Regions from separate parts of the Homo sapiens genome. Here all the other regions are linked to region 3. The links come from fine-mapping of genetic effects on plasma protein levels. A gene starts in region 3. Each other region holds a variant in brackets. All regions are shown on one strand. Distances are from middle to middle. Region 1 overlaps ITIH5 (inter-alpha-trypsin inhibitor heavy chain 5). Region 2 overlaps ITIH5 (inter-alpha-trypsin inhibitor heavy chain 5). Region 3 holds the start of ITIH5 (inter-alpha-trypsin inhibitor heavy chain 5).

The links. PIP is the posterior inclusion probability: the model's chance that the variant is causal. Protein levels are from the aptamer-based SomaScan assay of Sun 2018.
Region 1: its variant is fine-mapped to the plasma level of the ITIH5 protein (Sun 2018, PIP 0.95). The variant lies in the coding sequence of ITIH5. If it changes the protein, the assay may bind it differently, which can mimic a change of level.
Region 2: its variant is fine-mapped to the plasma level of the ITIH5 protein (Sun 2018, PIP 0.91).

Annotation. Positions count from the first base shown.
Region 1 is chr10:7,577,168-7,582,528 of GRCh38, forward strand. ITIH5 (inter-alpha-trypsin inhibitor heavy chain 5) reads right to left here. Exons shown (of 14, transcript NM_030569.7): 9 at 2,588-2,897. Among named protein-coding and RNA genes, the nearest start is that of ITIH5, 87 kb to the right of the region's middle. The variant G/A (reference allele first, on the strand shown) is at 2,879.
Region 2 is chr10:7,562,181-7,571,061 of GRCh38, forward strand. ITIH5 (inter-alpha-trypsin inhibitor heavy chain 5) reads right to left here. Exons shown (of 14, transcript NM_030569.7): 12 at 7,488-7,604; 13 at 3,850-4,227; 14 at 1-1,204. The coding sequence ends at 903. Among named protein-coding and RNA genes, the nearest start is that of LINC02642, 94 kb to the left of the region's middle. The variant G/GTA (reference allele first, on the strand shown) is at 3,123.
Region 3 is chr10:7,663,995-7,668,994 of GRCh38, forward strand. It overlaps ITIH5 (inter-alpha-trypsin inhibitor heavy chain 5), which reads right to left and starts at 2,972. Exons shown (of 14, transcript NM_030569.7): 1 at 2,809-2,972. The coding sequence starts at 2,898.

The DNA.
Region 1 (5,361 bases), 87 kb before region 3:
GATCACTAGGCAGCAGGTTGAACACCATTGGTGAGAGGGAATGCATTCTCTCACGCGGCTTCTGAGCTGTTTTTCAACCACTCTCATGATGAGAAAAAACCTGCTTATAGTAGATTAAAATCTTCCTCCCTGAAATTTCCACCCACTGGTTTCAGTTTTGCCTCTGGAACAATATCGAATTAGTGTAATCCATTTCAACAGACATTTGGATGCTTAAAAAACAATGCTGTGCATTCCTTTAAGCCCAGTCAATCCCCAGTTTCATGAACTATTCTTCCTGTGATACAATTTCAAGATTCCCTCACCAGTCTTGGTAAATTTCCTTTGTGTACACTTACGTTTCTTAAAGGGACTCTTAAAAACCTTTTTCTTAGAACCAAATACAAATTCCAGATGTGCTTTAAGCAGCGCATTCTACTTCAGAAACCTGACTTTCGTGAGTTTGTGCGTATAACATTTGCTTGCATTTGCTTTCCTTGTAGTTAAGTTGCATGGTCGCTTCTTGCTAAGTAAGGAGACAATTAAAATTCCCTTTCAAAAGGCCTAGAAACCATAGGCTGTGGAGTTAGACTTCCATCTCTGTTGCTTCCTTGCTGTGTGTCTTGGGACATGTGACTTAACCTCTCTGAACTTGAGTTTCCTTATCTAGAAAATCAGGATGTAAACAGTACTTCTTTGGTCACCTACTAGCTGTCCCTGAAAGTCCATTTTCCCCTTCTTTCATGAGAATTGAGCTCCGGCCATCCAGCTACAAACTACATTTCCCAGCCTCCATCGAGGCCACAAATGGCTATGTGACTATGTCCTCCCAATGGAATATGGGTAGCAGTGAGATGTGCAACTTCTCAATATTTGCTTACAATCCATGCTGGCTTTCTTTTCTCTCTCCCTTTTTGCGGCTAGAAAACAAGAGTGATAGTGACTGAATTTCAATCCTGTAGCATTAAGGACAACACCTGAGGGAAGCAGAGCAATAAAACAGAAGGAGCTTGGGTCCCTGAATGACTTCTGGGAGCAGGATCTAGCCTGTTACCATTACAGGAGAGGGAAGGAAATGGCTATCTTATTTCAGCCTTTGCCTTTCATCATCTCTGTATTGCAGCTTAGCCTTTACCCTAATACACCTACCTCCTAGGATTTCTGTGAGGATCATCTGGGATGATGCACATCGAAGTTCCTGGTGTATCATAAGTTCTCATAAATGCCAGGTATCGATCATAGTTTCAGTGGGATGGCAGTGCAGCTGACTTGTTACAGCATAACTGCTTTTGCTTCTGAATGCCTTATTGAATTTCAATTCTGTTATCCAGTGTATCAGATTCTCCCCTTTGACTCTAGTTTTGAATAATTTTTAAAATGTGGAAAGCAAATCTGTGTTTTCATTTAAATCTTTCATTAAAATGCGTGGGAGGAAACGGTGGCGAATCCCAAACCGAGGACCTGTCTTTACTGCACACCTTAGGTGTCTCCATTTCCATTTATCATTAATAAATGTGCTTTGACTATGGCTATTAAACACCTATAAATCTACCCAAACCTCCCCTTTGCTTTTAAGTAGATACCACATATGCCACGATGCAGATTAAAGCACCTCACGCTGAACTGGGAGCTGGCACTTCACTCAATGAACAGCAAAGGAGCAGACTGATGCGTGGCAACATAATATCGGAGGGAAGCTATTTCTGTTTTAAAAGATCTGAGTTTTCTCCATCTCTCATTTAAAAGATCTCATTTATTCTCCACCTCAAAATAATCTGATTATTTAACAGTTTTATCTGATGGTTTTGCTTCCAAATAAAAGTATCTTTTAACTAGTACTCAAAATGAACATAACAGTACTCTGCTACTTGCTCACAGGGTAGAATAAAAGTAAACTTACTAGAAAGTGCTTTGAAATATCAGGATGTCAATGAACTATGAGAGCTCATTAAATACTTAATATGGGATGGCCACTGTGCCAGTGCTATACATAGTGTTTTTATATAGCGATTTTCTCATTAAATTCTGCAACCAACCATAATCCTCATTTTACAGATGAGAAAACGGAGGTACAGACTGTCTTAAAATCTTGCTTAGGGCCGGGTGTGGTGGCTCACGCCCATAATCCCAGTACTTTGGGAGGCCAAGGCGGGCAGATCACCTGAGGTCAGGAGTTCGAGACCAGCCTGACCAACATGGAGAAACCTTGTCTCTACTAAAAATACAAAATTAGCCAGGCGTGGTGGTGTGTGACTGTAGTCCCAGCTACTCAGGAGGCTGAGGCAAGAGAATTGCTTGAACCCAGGAAGCAGAGGTTGCAGTGAGCTGAGATCACGCCATTGCATTGCAGCCTGGGCAACAAGAGCGAAACTCCATCACAAGAAAAAAAAAAAAAATCTTGCCTAAAGTCATAAAGGAGGATCAGAATTCGAACTCTGATCTGCCTAGTTTCAAAACACATGGTGACACCTCCCATTGCAATGAGCTATGATCGTTGTCAGCAGATGCAAGGCTGGGGTGCAGCAACACACTCCTCTCTGAATTCCCACCGCAGCCACCCCTCAGCCCCTCAAACAGCCTCTCATGCCTACGAAGACAGACCACAGACCCGATGAGCTGCGAGCCTGCGTCCTCCTCCTCGTGCACGCGCCGTGTGAGGCCACAGTTCTCCAGCGACAGTTTCTCCAGCAGCCTGAAGTCCACGTCGTTGCCGATGCCAATGGTGAAGATGCAGACTTGGCCTCGGGCGGCCTCTCGGGTGTTGTTGAGGATCTTGAGGGTGTGCGTCTCCCCGACCGTGGGCTTCCCATCCGTCAGGAAGACGATGAGGGACACGCTCCGGTCTCCAATGCCACTGTGGGCCACGTACTTGTTGAGGAGCCTGATGGCCCTCTGCAGG[G/A]CCCCGTTGATGTCTGTGCCTGCAGGACACCAACACGGAACAGCTCAAGCCTCTGCACTCACCTCCGCACTCTGATTGCACTTTCTTTTTTTTGAGACGGAGTCTTGCTCTGTCACCCAGGCTGGAGTGCAATGGCGCAATCTGCACTCACTGCAACCTCCGCCTCCCAGGTTCAAGCGATTCTCCCGCCTCAGCCTCCCGAGTAGCTGGGATTACAGGTGCACACCACCACATCTGGCTAATTTTTGTATTTTTAGTAGAGATGGGATTGACCATGTTGGCCAGGCTGGTCTCAAACTCCTGACCTCAAGTAATCCGCCCACCTTGGCCTCCCAAAGTGCTGGAATCACAGGCATGAGCCACCATGCCCAGCCTGAATGCACTTTCATAGCTGCAGTTCACGCTCAACCACCCAAATGCTCACAGGAGTGAGGTGTTAAGGGGCCATCCAGAAACTTGCTAAAAGCAAGTGCATTTACTAAATGCATATAAGTGAATGGGGATTATCCCACTGTAACAAACCTTCTCCAGAAGGCATGTGGCGACGCCTTAGCTTACCTGAGCTTCAATGGCTTCTGTGCCCTCTTCTGAGAATGGCTTTGAAAAGAGCAGGAAGGTGTTGAGCATAGAAGACAGCAGGAATGTGGAGGGAGAAAGAGCCGCAGAGGGGAGGAGGGGCATGGAACGAAGAGGAGGAGGGTAGCTGCTGACATCTCAGATGCCTTCCAGTGTTGTCTAGGGCTAGGTGGAGCTGATGAAAGAATGAATTTGTTGCCTTCATCGTCTCTCCTTTCTTTGCTTCCTGTCCCTTCAGATCACCTCTGCTTGCCAGAACCCCACAGAGAAAGGAGCCATGAAATATTTCTCCTCCTGGCCACCCTTTTTCCTTCAGAGGCCCTTGTCAGCAACAGCTCTGATTAAAGTTGGAGGCCAGCCAGGCACGGTGGCTCATGCCTGTAATCCCAGCACTCTGGGAGGCCAAGGTGGGTGGATCACCTGAGGTCAGGAGTTCGAGACCAGCCTCGCTAACATGGCAAAACCCTGTCTCTACCAAAAATACAAAAATTAGCCGGGCATGGTGGTACATGCCTGTAATCCCAGCTACTCGGATGGCTAAGGTCAGAAAATCACTTGAACCCAGAAGACGGAAGTTGCAGTGAGCCAAGATCGTGCCATTGCACTCCAGCCTGGGAAACAGAGTGAGACGCGGTCTCAACAGAAAAAATAAAAATAAAATAAATAAATGAATAAATAAAATAAAGTTGGGGGCGAAAGGGAAGAAAAATTTTATCAGGAATATGTGGCTTAGAAAAACCATACGAAACAGAAAACAAATCTCAACTCTGAGAAATGATGGAACAATAAACACCAATGACATTAGCAGGCATCTGTGGACAGCAGGAGGTTTTTCTCTCCTTTTTTTCTTTTGATGATTTTCTTTATTCCTCAAATGTTTTAGAATAGATACTTCCATGGAAAAAATGGTGTGAGAACATGAGCAGGCTTCTGGAGTTCTAAATGTTCTGTTTCTTGATCTGGGTCCAGGTTCTGTTCAGTTTATGAAAACATATCAAGTTGTACACTTACTACATGTACATTTTTCTGCATGTATGTTACACTACAGGTTACTGCTTCCTTTAAAAAGAATGTTCCCATGTTTTCTTTTCTTTTCCTTCTTTTTTTTTTTTTTTTTTTTTTTAGAGACAGGGTCTCACTATGTTGCCCAGGCTGGTCTCGAACTCCTGGGCTCAAGCAGTTCTCCCACCTCAACCTCCCAAAGTGCTGGGACTACAGGCATGAGCCACCATGCCCGGCCACCCATGTATTTTTTTTTTTTTTTTTTTTTTTGAGATATAGTCATGCTCTTTCGCCCAAGGTGGAATGCAGTGGCGTGATCTTGGCTCACTGCAACCTCTGCCTCCTGTGTTCAAGCAATTCTCCTGCCTCAGCCTCCCGAGTAGCTGGGATTACAGGCACACGCCACCATGCCTGGCTAATTTTTGTACTTTTTTAGTAGAGACGGGTTTCACCATGTTGGCCAGGCTGGTCTTGATTTCCTGACCTTGTGATCTGCCCGCCTCGGCCTCCAAAGTGCTGGGATTACTGGCAGGGGCCACAGCACCTGGCCCCATGTATTCTTAAATTTACTACTTTATGATTAAAATAAATCAGACAATTTAAGTTTGGGAGCAAAATAAATAAATAAAGTTGGGGCCTGTGTCTTTGATAGGAGCTGAACAAGTATTTGTTTGGTGGATGGGGAGACAGGTGGTTGGGTGGTTGAGGTTGAAACCCCAGCTACAGTGAGGTTTCTGGGTTAGCTAAGAATTCCACTGGACTAAGCTACCAACATCCCACCATTACCAAGTAAAGCAGAGACCTTACTGTAGTGTGAACACCTATTTCCTTTGTTTTTTTTTTAAAATGGCTTAAGATAAAATCTACATACCAAAAGATCACCCATTCTAAGTGTCCAATTCATG
Region 2 (8,881 bases), 100 kb before region 3:
GGATGACCACAAGGAAAAAAGGTCTGGGAACTATGACAAAGGCTGGAGAGCTCCAAGTAAAAGATGCATCATTCACTTGGCCAACTCTTCGTCACCAAGACATGCCAGTAAAATCAACCACATGGAGTTGTCCTGTGTATGAAAAGCCCTTAGCTTATTGGAACAAATTGGAGAATAGCCATTAGCAAAGTCAAGTGGTTTACAAAGCCCATTAGAAAGAGATCAGTATCTGAGCTGTAGATGTTTCTATTTTCAATCAAATTTCTTTTTAATGAAAACTAATTTTTAAGGGCAAGATACCACAGCAGAAGAAAAACGTCTTGCAAGAAAAGACTTCATGGTTTACAACGATCAAATGTATGGGCTATTTGCCTGATTGGTGGCCTGGACTCAGCAAGAGATTCCTTTGCAGCAGAGGTTGGCCACACATCTGGGGGCTGCAACACCACTGAAAAGACAGCTTTCTAAGCATTAGTGTAAGGCAAAAAGCAGAGTGCCTAAACTTGTCCATTTCCACCAAGAAAAAAAGTTTCATAGCAACCTTCCTTCACCAGAAAGGCTTACTTTATGATATGCTAACAGAACAGAAAAGCAGGTTGGGACAAGATACAGACTTTGTTGCATTTAGCTATGACCCTTCTCTCCCCTCTGTGGATGTGGGCAGGGTGGGGAGAGGCAGGAAGAGGCAGTAGAGGGAAATGACATTTGCACTCAGGCTTCCCGCCCCTACCCACCCCTACCCTTCGCCCAGACAGACGTCGGATCTATGCTGCACCAGGGGTGGGTCATGGAGTCCAGCTAATTGCCAGGAGCTGAGGCGTGTACAAGCCATGAAAAGAGCTGCCCCACGGCCTCCCCACATCACTGTCCTTCATGCACTTGCATCTTTAAGGCTGCCAGCTTCAGAGCTCCCTGGACATTCCCCGGCCAAGTGTCATCCCTGTGTCAAATGGATGGGATGCCAGGTAATCCTTGTACTCCCCGTCAATCAGTTTGGCGGCATTGTTCCTGGCAAACCAGCAGTCTATCTGCTCTTCCCCGTTGTAAATCTTCCTTTGCTTCCAGACCACTGGGACTTGGTGGCCTTTCACTGTTAGGACGGCCTCAGGCCCCTCTCCCACCTGAAGGAGCAGAGGGTGAGTGAGGTTCTGGCTGGGCCCTGCAGGGTCTTCTGTGAGTCTGGCATCCTGATTCAGGAACTGACCTGGGAGGACAAGGAAAAGCATCGGGTCTCAGTCAAATGCAGAAACCTCGTGCTGAACTCCAACTTCAGAGCTATCAGTGGCAGAAAGGCTTACAACTGGCCACAGCCCGAGACTGGACTCTCCCAGTGACATGGAAGAACATGTGCTCTGGGGGGCAGGGTGGAGAGAGCTGAGGATTTATCCACATTGTGGGATTTACCCATGACTGCTGGAAGCTTCCCAGCTGCTAACACTAGAAAGTTGTGTAACCTACACATAGTGATAACCACGGTCTCCTACTGAGTCCAGAGGACAGGACGGGGCATATGAAGAGGGAAGTAGTGTTCCATCTTCTCTCTGTCCTCTTCCCAGTCACAGGCCCGCCTCCTTTCTATCCGTCTCAGGTCTGTGCCGGGTGGGGGTGGAAAGCAGTCAGCTCAGATCCTCTCTGACCCTCGTCCTCAGGACTCTCCTGGTCAGATGGCAGCACTGCTCAGGCCACAGGAATAAAGAGCTGTGTCTGCAAGGGGAGCTCATGCTGGGCCGCCAGGCCCCACGAAACGCGGCCAGCTCAAGAGCCAGGAAATCCTGCCTACTAAACTGAACCCTGACAATGGCTTGCTCTTTATTTTTGGGCAAGGGGCCCACATGAAATTACACGTTGAAGAAAGCTGGGTAGAATGGCCCGCCTGCTGGGCACGGCCACGTGGGTGCCCCCCCGGTGGGGGTGTCGCTCAGGCTGGGCGCTGGGCAGGGCTGCCTCGTGTCTGTGTATTCTTGCTGAGAGCAAAGGAACTGGACCCTCAGGTGACTACATTTTAATTCCTCATTCATTTTTCCAGAAGGCTAAAGAGAACTACTGGTTTATAAAGCCCATTCCTAGCTCACAAAGCCCAGGAAGGAATCTAATTTTCATATTACATATGTAGTAATCTAATGTTCATATTACATATATAGTAATCGAATTTTCATATTACATATGTAATTTTCATGTTACATATATAGTCATGCACCACATCATGACATTTTAATCAATGATGGACTGAAAATATGATGGTGGTCCCATAAGATTATAATAGCATATTTTTAGTGTACCTTTTCTATGTCTAGATATGTTTAGATGAACAAATACTTATCATCGTGTTGCAATTGCCTGCAGTAGTCCATGCAGTCACATGCTGTACAGGTTTGCAGCCCGGGAGCAATAGGAGACACCACATAGCCTAGCTGAGTGGGTAGTATGCGACACTATCTAGAGAGGTTTGTGTAAGGATATTCTAGATGGTCACGTAATGACCAAATCACCTAACGACCATTAGAATGTATCCCTGTCATTAAGCAAGGCATGACTGTGTGTGTCGGTGGGTGTGAATATATATAATATGTACATACATACACAGACTGTGTATGTGTACACACACACATATATACAGACTGTGTGTATATATACACACACACACCATAGACTGTATACATACATACATATATACATACATACACAGACTGTATATGTATACACACACACATACATACATATACAGACTGTGTGTGTATATATATATATATACACACACCATACATACACAGACTGTATACATACATATACATATACACACACGTTCATACATATAGACTGTATACCTACATATATACATATATACATACATAGACTGTATATATATATACATATATACACACATAGACTGTATATATATATATACACACACACACACACATACATATACAGACTGTGTATATATACACACACCATACATACATACAGACTGTATATATAAACACACATACATACACAGGCTATATATATATATATACACACACATACACACACATCATACATACATATATACACAGAGTGTATACATACATATACACATATACACAGACTGTACATATATACACACACCATACATACAGACT[G/GTA]TATATATATATACACACACACATCACACATACAAAGATGGTATACATATATATATACATACACAGACTATGTATGTATATATACACACATATCATGCACACATACATAGACAGTATACATACATATATACACATAGACTGTGTATATATACACACAGACATACATATGTACATATACAGACTGATTATATATTATGTATATGTGTGCATATATAGACTGTATATATACATACTTATCAGTCTGTGTATACATATATACATACAGACGGTATATATAATACATATATACATGTATATTTATAATATATAATACATTATGTATATGTATATATGTATAGACTGTATATATATACACACACATACATATACAGACCATATACACATACATATACAGACTGCATATATAATATATATTATGTATTTATATAGAGAGACTATATACACATATGCAGTCTGCATGTACACATATGCATACATACAGACTATATATAATACATATATACATATATATGTATAGTATATAATACATTATGTATATGTATATATGTATAGACTATATATATGTACACACACACATACATACATACATATGCGGACTGTATATATAATGAAAACCACATTCCTATTGAATTTCTCAATCAAACGAAAGGTGTTGGCAATATCAGCTTTGCTTGGGAAATGTAACTCTGCCCTCTATGCCCAGCGTGAGGAGAGCGCAGCTTCCTACCCAGCAGTCCGTGGCAGTTGCTGGAAAGGCCCTCGCTGTTGGCAATGTAGAAACCCAGGTGGTGTCGCTGGAAGGGCGCCGGCTTTTTGTAGAGGTGGATGAGGATGACAAAGGCTATGGAGCCCTGGATGGTGACGGTGACATTGGCGTTGGCAGACACGGACACCTCCAGCCCCCAGCTCCCCACCACCACACTCTGGTTGCAGGGGAGCACCAGTCTGTCCCCACCATCCAAGATGACTCTGCTCGGTGTGATCTCGAGATAAGATCTCTCTGGCTTGTTGATGAGGATGGTGATAGTGCGCAAGTAAGTGCGCTGTTTCTTGTGGCCATTTGGAGGGGCGGGTGCCCCAATTAACTCTCCGTTCACTGTGACACCTCAAAGGCCAAGGGGAAAAGAAGAAGGTTAGAAAATCTGACCAGGAGTGGTGGCTCACACCTGTAATCCCAGCACTTAGAAGGCCAGGGCAGGTGGATTGCCTGAGTCCAGGAGTTCAAGACCAGCCTGGGCAACACAGAGACCCCATCTCTACTAAAAATAAACAATTAGCTGAGCATAGTGGTGCAAGCCTGTAGTCCCAGCTAGTTCACTTGAGCCCAGGAGTTCCCTTGAGGCCAGGAGTTCAAGGCTGCAGTGATCTGTGATTGCACCACTGCAGTCTACCCTGGGCTACAGAGTGAGATCCTATCTCATTAAAAAAAAAAAAAAAAAGAAGAAGAAGAAGAAGAAGAAGAAAGAAGAAAGAAGAAAGAAGAAAGAAGAAGAAGAAGAGGAAGAGGAAGAGGAAGAGGAAGAGGAAGAGGAAGAGGAAGAGGAAGAAGAAGAAGAAGAAGAAGAAGAAGAAGAAGAAGAAGAAGAAGAAGAAGAAGAAGAAGAAGAAGAAGAAGAAGAAAAGAAAAGAAAATCTATCCCTGCCCAACGCATCAAGTTAGAACTTCCCTCCTCCTTTGGGCTTATCTTTGTATCTCTAGTACCAAAAACATGTCTGACTTACACACAGAGGTCACTCAGTGGTCACCAAGTGAGTGAACAAATGAGGGAATGCGTAAAGTTATGTGCGGATTTTTTACTGTTGTCTGACCAGTATGTTGGGATAGGGGAGAGAGGATGTAGTTTTGGGTCAAGATATCGTAGATGGAGGCATGAAGCTAAGTATTTGTGCATCTACACACAGCTTACCATGTTCGTCTGGTTTCCTTCCAGTGTGGCTGTAGTGATAAGAACTCTTATATGACCCTGATACATATTTTGTACCTACCAGAGGCTGCTGATCCTAATTCGGACATCTTTTATTATTATTATTATTATTATTATTATTATTATTATACTTTAGGTTTTAGAGTACATGTGCCCAACGTGCAGGTTTGTTACATATGTATACATGTGCCCTGTTGGTGTGCTGCACCCATTAACTCGTCATTTACATTAGGTATATCTCCTCATGCTATCCCGCCCCCCTACCCTGACCCCACGACAGGCCCTGGTATGTGATGTTCCCCACCCTGTGTCCAAGTGTTCTCATTGTTCAATTCCCACCTATGAGTGAGAACATGCGGTGTTTGGTTTTCTGTCCTTGCAATAGTTTGCTCAGACATCTTATGATGCCACTGAGCAGTGTGGGAGAATGTAAACTTAGTTGTTGTTTTTTGTTTTGTTTTTGTCCAAAAACTCAAGTTCTTCCACTTAGGTGTTTGTCCTTAGACAAGTCAAAAAAAAACCTGTAATCCCAGTTTCTGGGGAAGCTGAGGCAGGAGAATCACTTAAACCCAGGAGGTGGAGATTGCAGTGAGCTGAGATGGTGCCACTTCACTGCAGCCTAGGCAACAGAGTGAAACTACATCTCAAAAAAACAAAAACCCTGCCTCAATTTCCTTATCTGTAAAATGGATGGACAGATGGAAAACCTAACAGAATTTTTGTGAGGATCCCAGAAGGTAGCATGTGTGTAAGTTGTAAACTGCTATGAAATAGAACTCCTTTTTTTTCTTCATCATTATGAACATCACTGGGGCTTTTCTGGACTTGAGCAAGGCCTGTGAACCAGGCCCCAGGGTTCCGTGCTGTCTGGCTGAATAACAAACAGATGGCGATTGCACTTGAGATGTTTGGGGCTGAATTAGGTGATGCATGTTAAATGTGTTTTGCTCTCAGGCAAAGCAGCAATTTGCAATAAGAAAAGATTGCTATATAATTAACTCTTGTTTTCTCTGCTTTGAGAACAATCTTCCCAGTAATCTTCCCAATAAAACTTCTTAGACATTCAAGGAAAAAAGGGCCTTCTCTGGGGCAAGGGGTCAGGGGAGAGGAGAAATCCCAGCATGAGAAGAGCCTATGCTCTTCCAGCCTCAAAGTTCTAAGCATTTTCAGGCTGAGTTCCCACCACGGACATCTCGCTGAAGACAGAAACCATGGGAACTGCTCCCAGAATAGGAGGTATTTCCAAGGACATATACAGTTAGGCCCCTATCTTGCTCCTGAGCCCTTTGAAATAAGAAACAGTAGAGATTTGGCTCTGAGGCTATAAAGTCCCACAAGAAAACATGTGTTGAAGGAACCCCAGGATCAAACTCTACATAATTGCATCACACATATCACCTGCTGGGGGACCCTGTGCAACCCAACATTCCAAGACACGTTCTCAGCAGTGAGGAAGTGCCGGGGTGCCCACTCCAAAGCTTGTCCTCACAGAGCTGGACATGGTTTGTTACCTGCATCGAACTTGAAAAGCTTTCTCTGTGCTAATCTCTTTCACCCAAGCCCTCTACAGACCAACAGGGGCCACAGAGCCCCTTTGTCCATACATGTTCACGGCACACAGACAGAACTGTGGATTAACATGTGACATCCCATGTAAGTCATCAAGAAACTGACATGAGTTTAGAACCTTGGCCTCCCCGGCATCACAGCTTTTGAATGGATAGACACTATGACAATAATACACAATAATATATTGTGGTTTTCTTTTCTTTTTTTCTTTTTCTTTTTTTTTTTTTTTTTTTTTTTGAGATAGAGTCTTGCTCTTTTCACCCAGGCTGGAGTGCAGTGGCATGATCTCAGCTCACTGCAACCTCTGCCTCCCAGGTTCAAGCGATTCTCCTGCCTCAGCCTCCCGAGTAGCTGGGATTTCAGGTGCCCACCACTATGCCGGGCTAATTTTTTTGTAACTTTAGTAGAGATGGGGTTTCACCATGTTGGCCAAGCTGGTCTTGAACTCCTGACCTCCGGTGATCCACCTGCCTCGGCCTCCCAAAGTGCTGGGATTACAGGCATGAGCCACCGCGCCCAGCCTACATAGCGGATTTCTAAAGCACTTCAGCATTTAAAAAACAACTTCATAACCAGTTTCATTTGATCCATTTTATATTAGCTCTGTGAGGCCAAGAGAGTGTTCCTATCTCCATTTTACAAGGGAAACAACTCCCAAGGCATGTGCCCAAGGTCACACGGCACTTGTCATAAAGCAGGGAGTCGGATGCATAAGTCCAGGAGCGCAGTGCGCTTCCCTTAACCACTGACGATACTCACTGAGCGTCTGTAAGGTGGCCCTTGGATCACTGGACATCCATCTGAAGAACAGAGGGGGATGCAGTACCTACCTGGTCCTTGCCCAGATGCTGCAGCGGAAGGTAGAACTTACCAGAGTCCCTGTGATCAGAGACCAGCCTGAGGATGTCCCCGGGCTGCCCATCAATGTTGAAGCACACGGTGAGTCTGCTCAGGGGGAAATCCACAACAAAGTGGGGATCACCATCCACTGCCAGAGCAGAAGAAAACGGAGAGAAAAAGAAAGACACTTATTCAGTACCTTCCTTGTGTAGGTGCTACTCTCTATTTTCTCATGAATTATTTTATTGAATCCTGAAAACTATTCTGGAAGGAGGTGTCCTCAATTTCCAGATGAGGAAGATGAGTGGGAGGGAAACAACTCCCCAGAATTACCCAGTGAGTTTGCAGTAAACATTTGACTTCAGGTCTTCTAAATTCCAATATAATGCTCCTTTCAACACACCTCAGCTCAGTCTAGACAACTAAGCTTTGAGAGGTGAGAGGAGAAGGAAAGAGAGATCCCCACACACCTTCAACTGGTACTCAGCCCCCATGCTTCCATTTCCCAGGGGGACATCCCTTGCTATTTGCTTTCTCCTTTAATGGCACAGATGCAGAGGACTTTCCTCCCTATGATGGGAGATCTATGGTGCTTCTTCTCCCAGGAAGCCATGGGCTACCCCAGGCTCATTCGCAGCGTCAGCTGTACGCCACCCCTGCACGCAGGCACTGAGAGCCATGCCCAGCTTAGATGCAGAGGCAAGGGAAGCAAAATGCGAGTAGGCGGCCAGGCGCACAGTCAGGGTGCTGGCGGAAACCCCTCCTTTGGGTCACTCCGACTTCACTGCTCTGAAATTTCTGTCCACAGATGAGACCGCAAAGTTCAGCTGACAGTTCTTATCTGTTCTCCTCATTTTCACCTCTGTTAAAGGTGAACAGCCTTGCCTTTTATTATACAGACAGAAGATTTCTTGAGAATCTATATCAATTCTCTTACCAGATTGGAGATTTACCTTCTCTCTAATTTATATTCCAAGTGCAATTTGTTTATTTTATTTATTTTTGAGACAGGGTCCCACTCTGTTGACCAGGCTGGAGTACAGTGGTGCAATCAGAGCTCACTGCAGCCTCAAACTCCTGGGCTCAAACGGTCCTCCCACCTCAGCCTCCTGAGTAGCTGGGACTACAGGCACGTGCCACCATGCCAGGCTAATTTTTTATTTTTTGTAGGGACAGGGTCTCACTATGTTGCCCAGGCTGGTCTCAAACTCCTGGGCTCAAGCATTCCACCCACCTCAGCCTCCCAAAGTGCTGGGATTTCAGGCGTGAGCCACCACACCGGCCTACAACTTGTTTCTCAAATGCCCCTCTGCCTTCTGTGCACATGGACATGTCTGCATGCACGCTGTGCACGGTGTAGGCAGGGGCCAGGCAGAGTCCACTCTTTTTAAGCTGCAGCAAACTAACATCCCTGCATTGACTGCT
Region 3 (5,000 bases):
ACCATATAAATTTAAGCTAACAAAACAGATAAGTCTGTAGCAGACAGTTTTTATACAAGGGATTTTCTTTTAAATACTAATTTCCCAAAATATCCTTTAAAAATACTACTATTCAAAGTGTGCGGCTAGGCACAGTGGCTTATGCCTGTAATCCCAGCACTTTGGGAGGCCAGGGCAGGTGGATCACTTGAGCTCAGGAGTTTGAGACCAGCCTGGCCAACGTGATGTATTTTTGTCTCTATTAAAAATACAAAAATTAGCCAGGCATGGTGGAGTGCACCTGTAATCCCATCTGCTTGGGAGGCTGAGGCATGAGAATCACTTGAACCCAGGAGCCAGAGGTTGCAGAGAGCAGAGAGCCTGCCACTGCACTCCAGCCTGGGCGACACAGCGAGATTCCGTCTCAAAAAAAAAAAAAAAACTAAAATGTGTTCCATGGACCACCTGCATCAGAATCATCTGCGCCCCATCCCAAACCCAATGGATCTAAACCAATGGAAGTGGAACTCAGGAAGCTGAATGTTTAATGAACACCCCAAGTGACTTTTTCCACCCCAAGGGTGAAAACCACTGCTTTTAGGAGTCATTCCACTATGGGTTACTGAGTACCCACTGTCTACAGATGGGGTGAAGGGTGAGAGGTGAAGGAACTTGAATCTAAGGTGTTACTGGTATATTTCCAATTACAGGTGAATGACAAATAACTGCAATGCAAGTTAATAGTCATATTCAGCTATATTAAAATTTGCATAAGATTTGCATAGACTTACATTTTTCAAATTAAGTTTACATACAATTTTAAAGACCATAATGATTGAGAATAGAGTGCTCATTACATTCCCAGGTTCTGTTCTAAGATTTAAGTATATTAATTGTTTCACTTTTCAAAATCCTAAGTAATTGCATCATCCCCATACAGAGATAGAGGCTCACAAACGTTAAGTAACTCCTCAGTAAGTGCAGAGCCAAGATTTGAACCCAGAATTCTGGTGCTAAAGCCTATGCTCTCAAACCCTATATCACAAAAACTAAATATAAAAAAGAACGGATTAGGGATAAAAGGTAAAATTGCAAGTTCATAGAACTTTATACCTTGGATTTTTTTTCCTGATTTAGTCATTTTCAAGATAAATAAATATTGTGCTGGGTTGAAGACAGCATGAAATCACTAAAAGAGGTCAAGCCATGTTTTTTTATGACAGCAAGTCCATAGACTGTGAAGCCTACTTGAACTTGGTATATGCTAGAGTTTAAACAGCCTTCCTAGTTCAGACACAGAATCTTTGTTTCAGTCCATCCCACACTGTCCTGTCTCCACACCCCCAAAAAAGTTTCAAGATCTTTACCCTAAATTCCTTCACTCAGCATGTCAGCAGCATGAGTCTAAGACCATGGCCAGCATTAAGTGCTGACAGTGTTTTAAGCACTTGGGTGTCATAATGCATTCAGTCCTCACAACCCTATCATTTCTCCACATTTCACAGAAGAGGAATATAAGGCCGAAAGGCACTTGATCAGGGTCCCAGAGCTGATAAGTGACAGAATCAAGAATCAAGTGGTCCCAGACATCCTGGTACCAAGCCCATGCCTTCAGCCATCTACTAAAACATCTCCCAGTTATTGAGCGTCCACTGTATACCAGGTGCTTAACACAAATTAGCTGAGTCCTTGCAAGTTTGCTCAAAAAGAGCCGCATTCCCTGCCCTGACCAACGAGGACATGAAGGCTCTGAGAGATTAAAGGGCTTGCCCGGAACACACAACTAAAGCCCAGCCTGTCTCTGCATCCAAAGCCTGCACTTTTCCAACATCACTACGATGCCTCCTGGGATTTTATTAGCTACTCCCCCCCTAGAAGGAAGTATCATTACTACCACTTTACTGTTAAGCACATTCACAGGACAGAGAACATGAAGATAACTGTCTTCATATTTAGGCAGTTGGGCTTCAAAACTGCTCTTCAAAACAGGGGCTGGAAAAGGGAGAAAAGGTCCGCCTACTTGTATCTTCCTCCCACCGTGCACAAACACGCTGGAAGCTAAACGGCTTAAATATTTAAATGGCATGTGTGTGAAAGCACTTCTACTTTGTGACAGGGCCATGTTGCACATTAGCTCTCAATGCTATTTGTGTGAACCCGCTTCATACTTTTTAAAGACAAAAATGCTCTATTCATCATTTTATTGACATTTCATATTTGCAGGTTTTATTCGCCTGCGAGGTTAAGACATTTGAAACACAAATCCTGACAAACGCACAGACCAGCAACTCGAGGAACTCAGACGCTTTGGCTCTCGGTGCCACCTTTAAATGCTAAACCACCGGTAGGTAGTCGCTAAATGGGAAAGTCGTGTTCTCCCGGTTTTCAGGTGGGAAAAGCTGAGGCTCCCAGGAGTCTAGAACTCCTCTCATATTGCCTTTCTCCCTGGATCAACTGGGAATGATGATAACAGCAGACTGCCCCCCACGCGTGATAAGGAAAAAACCTTGTAATTATAATAACTTTTGGAGCTACCTCAGAAATTAACAACGACGAACAGAAATCTGCGCAATCAACAGGAGCCAAGAAGAAAAACTCGGCTCCGCAGGACAAGTCCCGGGCACAGTTCTGCAGGAAGCCTCAGGCCAGATCAGGCACCGCGGCTCACACAGAGGTGACGCACGAGTGACCCACAGAGAGGGACCCCTGGGCCTCTGGTGGGGGCCTGGGAGACGGTCGAAGGGGGCCCGGGCAGAAGCTCCGCGGCCGGGCCGGCGGAGGGAAGGGGGCGGCCGCGCCCGGGACCCGGCTCCCCTCGGCTCCACTTACCTGCTCCGAAGAGTGGCCCCAGCTCTGCGCCTCTTCCTGCGACCCCACACACAGGGACAGCCCCAGGCACAGCCCCAGCAGCAGGAGCATGGCGGGGCGAGGGCGCGGGACGCTCGGGGACCCGGCGGGACACGCTTTGCAGCGCCCAGGGCTCCAGCCACTGCGGGACGCTCTCGGGGCCGCCCACCCCGCGGTCCCAGCCCGGACCCCGCCCACCCCACGGACCCAGCCCGGACCCCGCCCACCCCGCGGTCCCAGCCCGGACCCCGCCCACCCCACGGACCCAGCCCGGACCCCGCCCACCCCACGGACCCAGCCCGGACCCCGCCCACCCTGCGGTCCCCTCCTGGACTCCGCCCACCCCACGGACCCAGCCCGGACCCCGCCCACCCCACGGACCCAGCCCGGACCCCGCCCACCCCGCGTCCCAGCCCGGACCCCGCCCACCCCACGGACCCAGCCCGGACCCCGCCCACCCTGCGTCCCCTCCTGGACTCCGCCTACCCCGGTCCCAGCCCGGACCCCTTCCACCCCGCGGTCCCCTTCTGGACTCCAACTCTCCCACCCCAGCCCAGACCCCACTTCCCCGCCCCAGACCTTCCCACACCCTGCCTCCCTGGACACCCCCCAAGCCCGGCCTCGCCTCCCTGTCCCCAGTCAGGACCCAGCTTCCCCAGGTCCCCAACCCCAAGCTCCGTTTCTCCACGCCCCCATTTCCCCCCACCTCCCCAGTCCCGGCCCCACCTCTCCTGTCCCTGTCCCCACCGAGGCCAACTTCCCAGACCCCACCTACAGCCACCCCCTTAAACCCGGCCCGCCTCCCTGTGGCCCCCACACCAGCCCCGCCTCCTCCCCAGTCCCCACCCCGCCCGGCGCCGCTTCCCGGCCTCAGTCCCACCAGAGCCGCGCCTCCAGCCCCCAGTGCTGGGCTAGCTCTGTTCGGGGAGAAGGCATTCCAAGCCTGCCTCGCCGCGCACAGCAGGGGCCACCTGTGTTGGCCCCACGGACCCCTCCCACACCCTCCCATCCTGCGGCTGTGACACTTAACCAAGGACCAGTCTCCTCTGTAGAGCCTCCTACTCCGTTTCTTGCCAACACCCACTGCCTCCCGGGCCCTACCCCACGCGCCCCCGCAACTCTTTCTTCCTCTCCCTCAAGGTGCAATATGCTTCTTTGCGGACTTGCTTAATTTCTGTCGCCAGAGGACGCGAGAAGGCCAGCCTGGTCCTCAGCACACAGCCCACCCCGCACCTGCCAGCCTGAAGCCGGCAGATCGTCCCCTCTGCATTGGCCAGGGACGCTTAATAGGCAGGACAAAGGATACTACCTGCAGTCTAGCGCAGGAGGGACTAGCAAGGCTGCCAGCCTTTATGTTCTAAGGAAACAGAGGAGACGAGGGAAGTATCTTGGTAGCGTGTAGTATTTCTGAGTTTCTGGTTATTAATCATGTAAGTGAGTGCCAGTATGTATCTTAGTTACAAACTATTGGTGATACTTCCATCCTGCCATTGGAAGAATTCTTACCCACCAGCCGTCCACACCTGGCCTTCTACAGGCTGAGTGCGTCTTTTTTATCTGGTGATACACATTGCAGTTGGGGCTACTTGTTTATTTCATGTTGCAAAGGATGTTTTTTATGTCTCTGTGATAATTTCATCTAAATAGGTGAGGTGAGTGACAGACCCTTTAAGGACCAAGAACAGGGAAGGGGCTAACTTCGGACCATGGAATAGAGAATACTATTCCATGCAGGTTACTATGGGGCCATTAAATAATCGTGCGACGTCTCCAGAAACATGGAGAATGTTGACAGTGTAATCTAAAGAGAAAATCACATCACCAAATCGTATCAACAGTATGATTGCAATTAGGTAGAAATACATATGGAGGGACATAACTAGAAAAAAAAAACATGAAAAATAAAAGCAGTGGGTAGGTTAGTTTGTGGTGAGATCCTCGAAAATATCTATTCTTGTTGAAATGCTCTTTGTTTAATGAATTAGGAGAGGTTAAAAACAAACACCTTGCTACTGTGAAATAAATGAAAGGAAAATTATTGTCATCAGCAGTTAATCCTTTAATAGCCTAACCACTAGTCAGCATGCAACCAATAAGAAACAACTGTAGCCGGTTATTTTTCCCTCCAGAGGAAAGTAACTATTTGTGAACCAGAAGTTGAATTGGACAAAGCC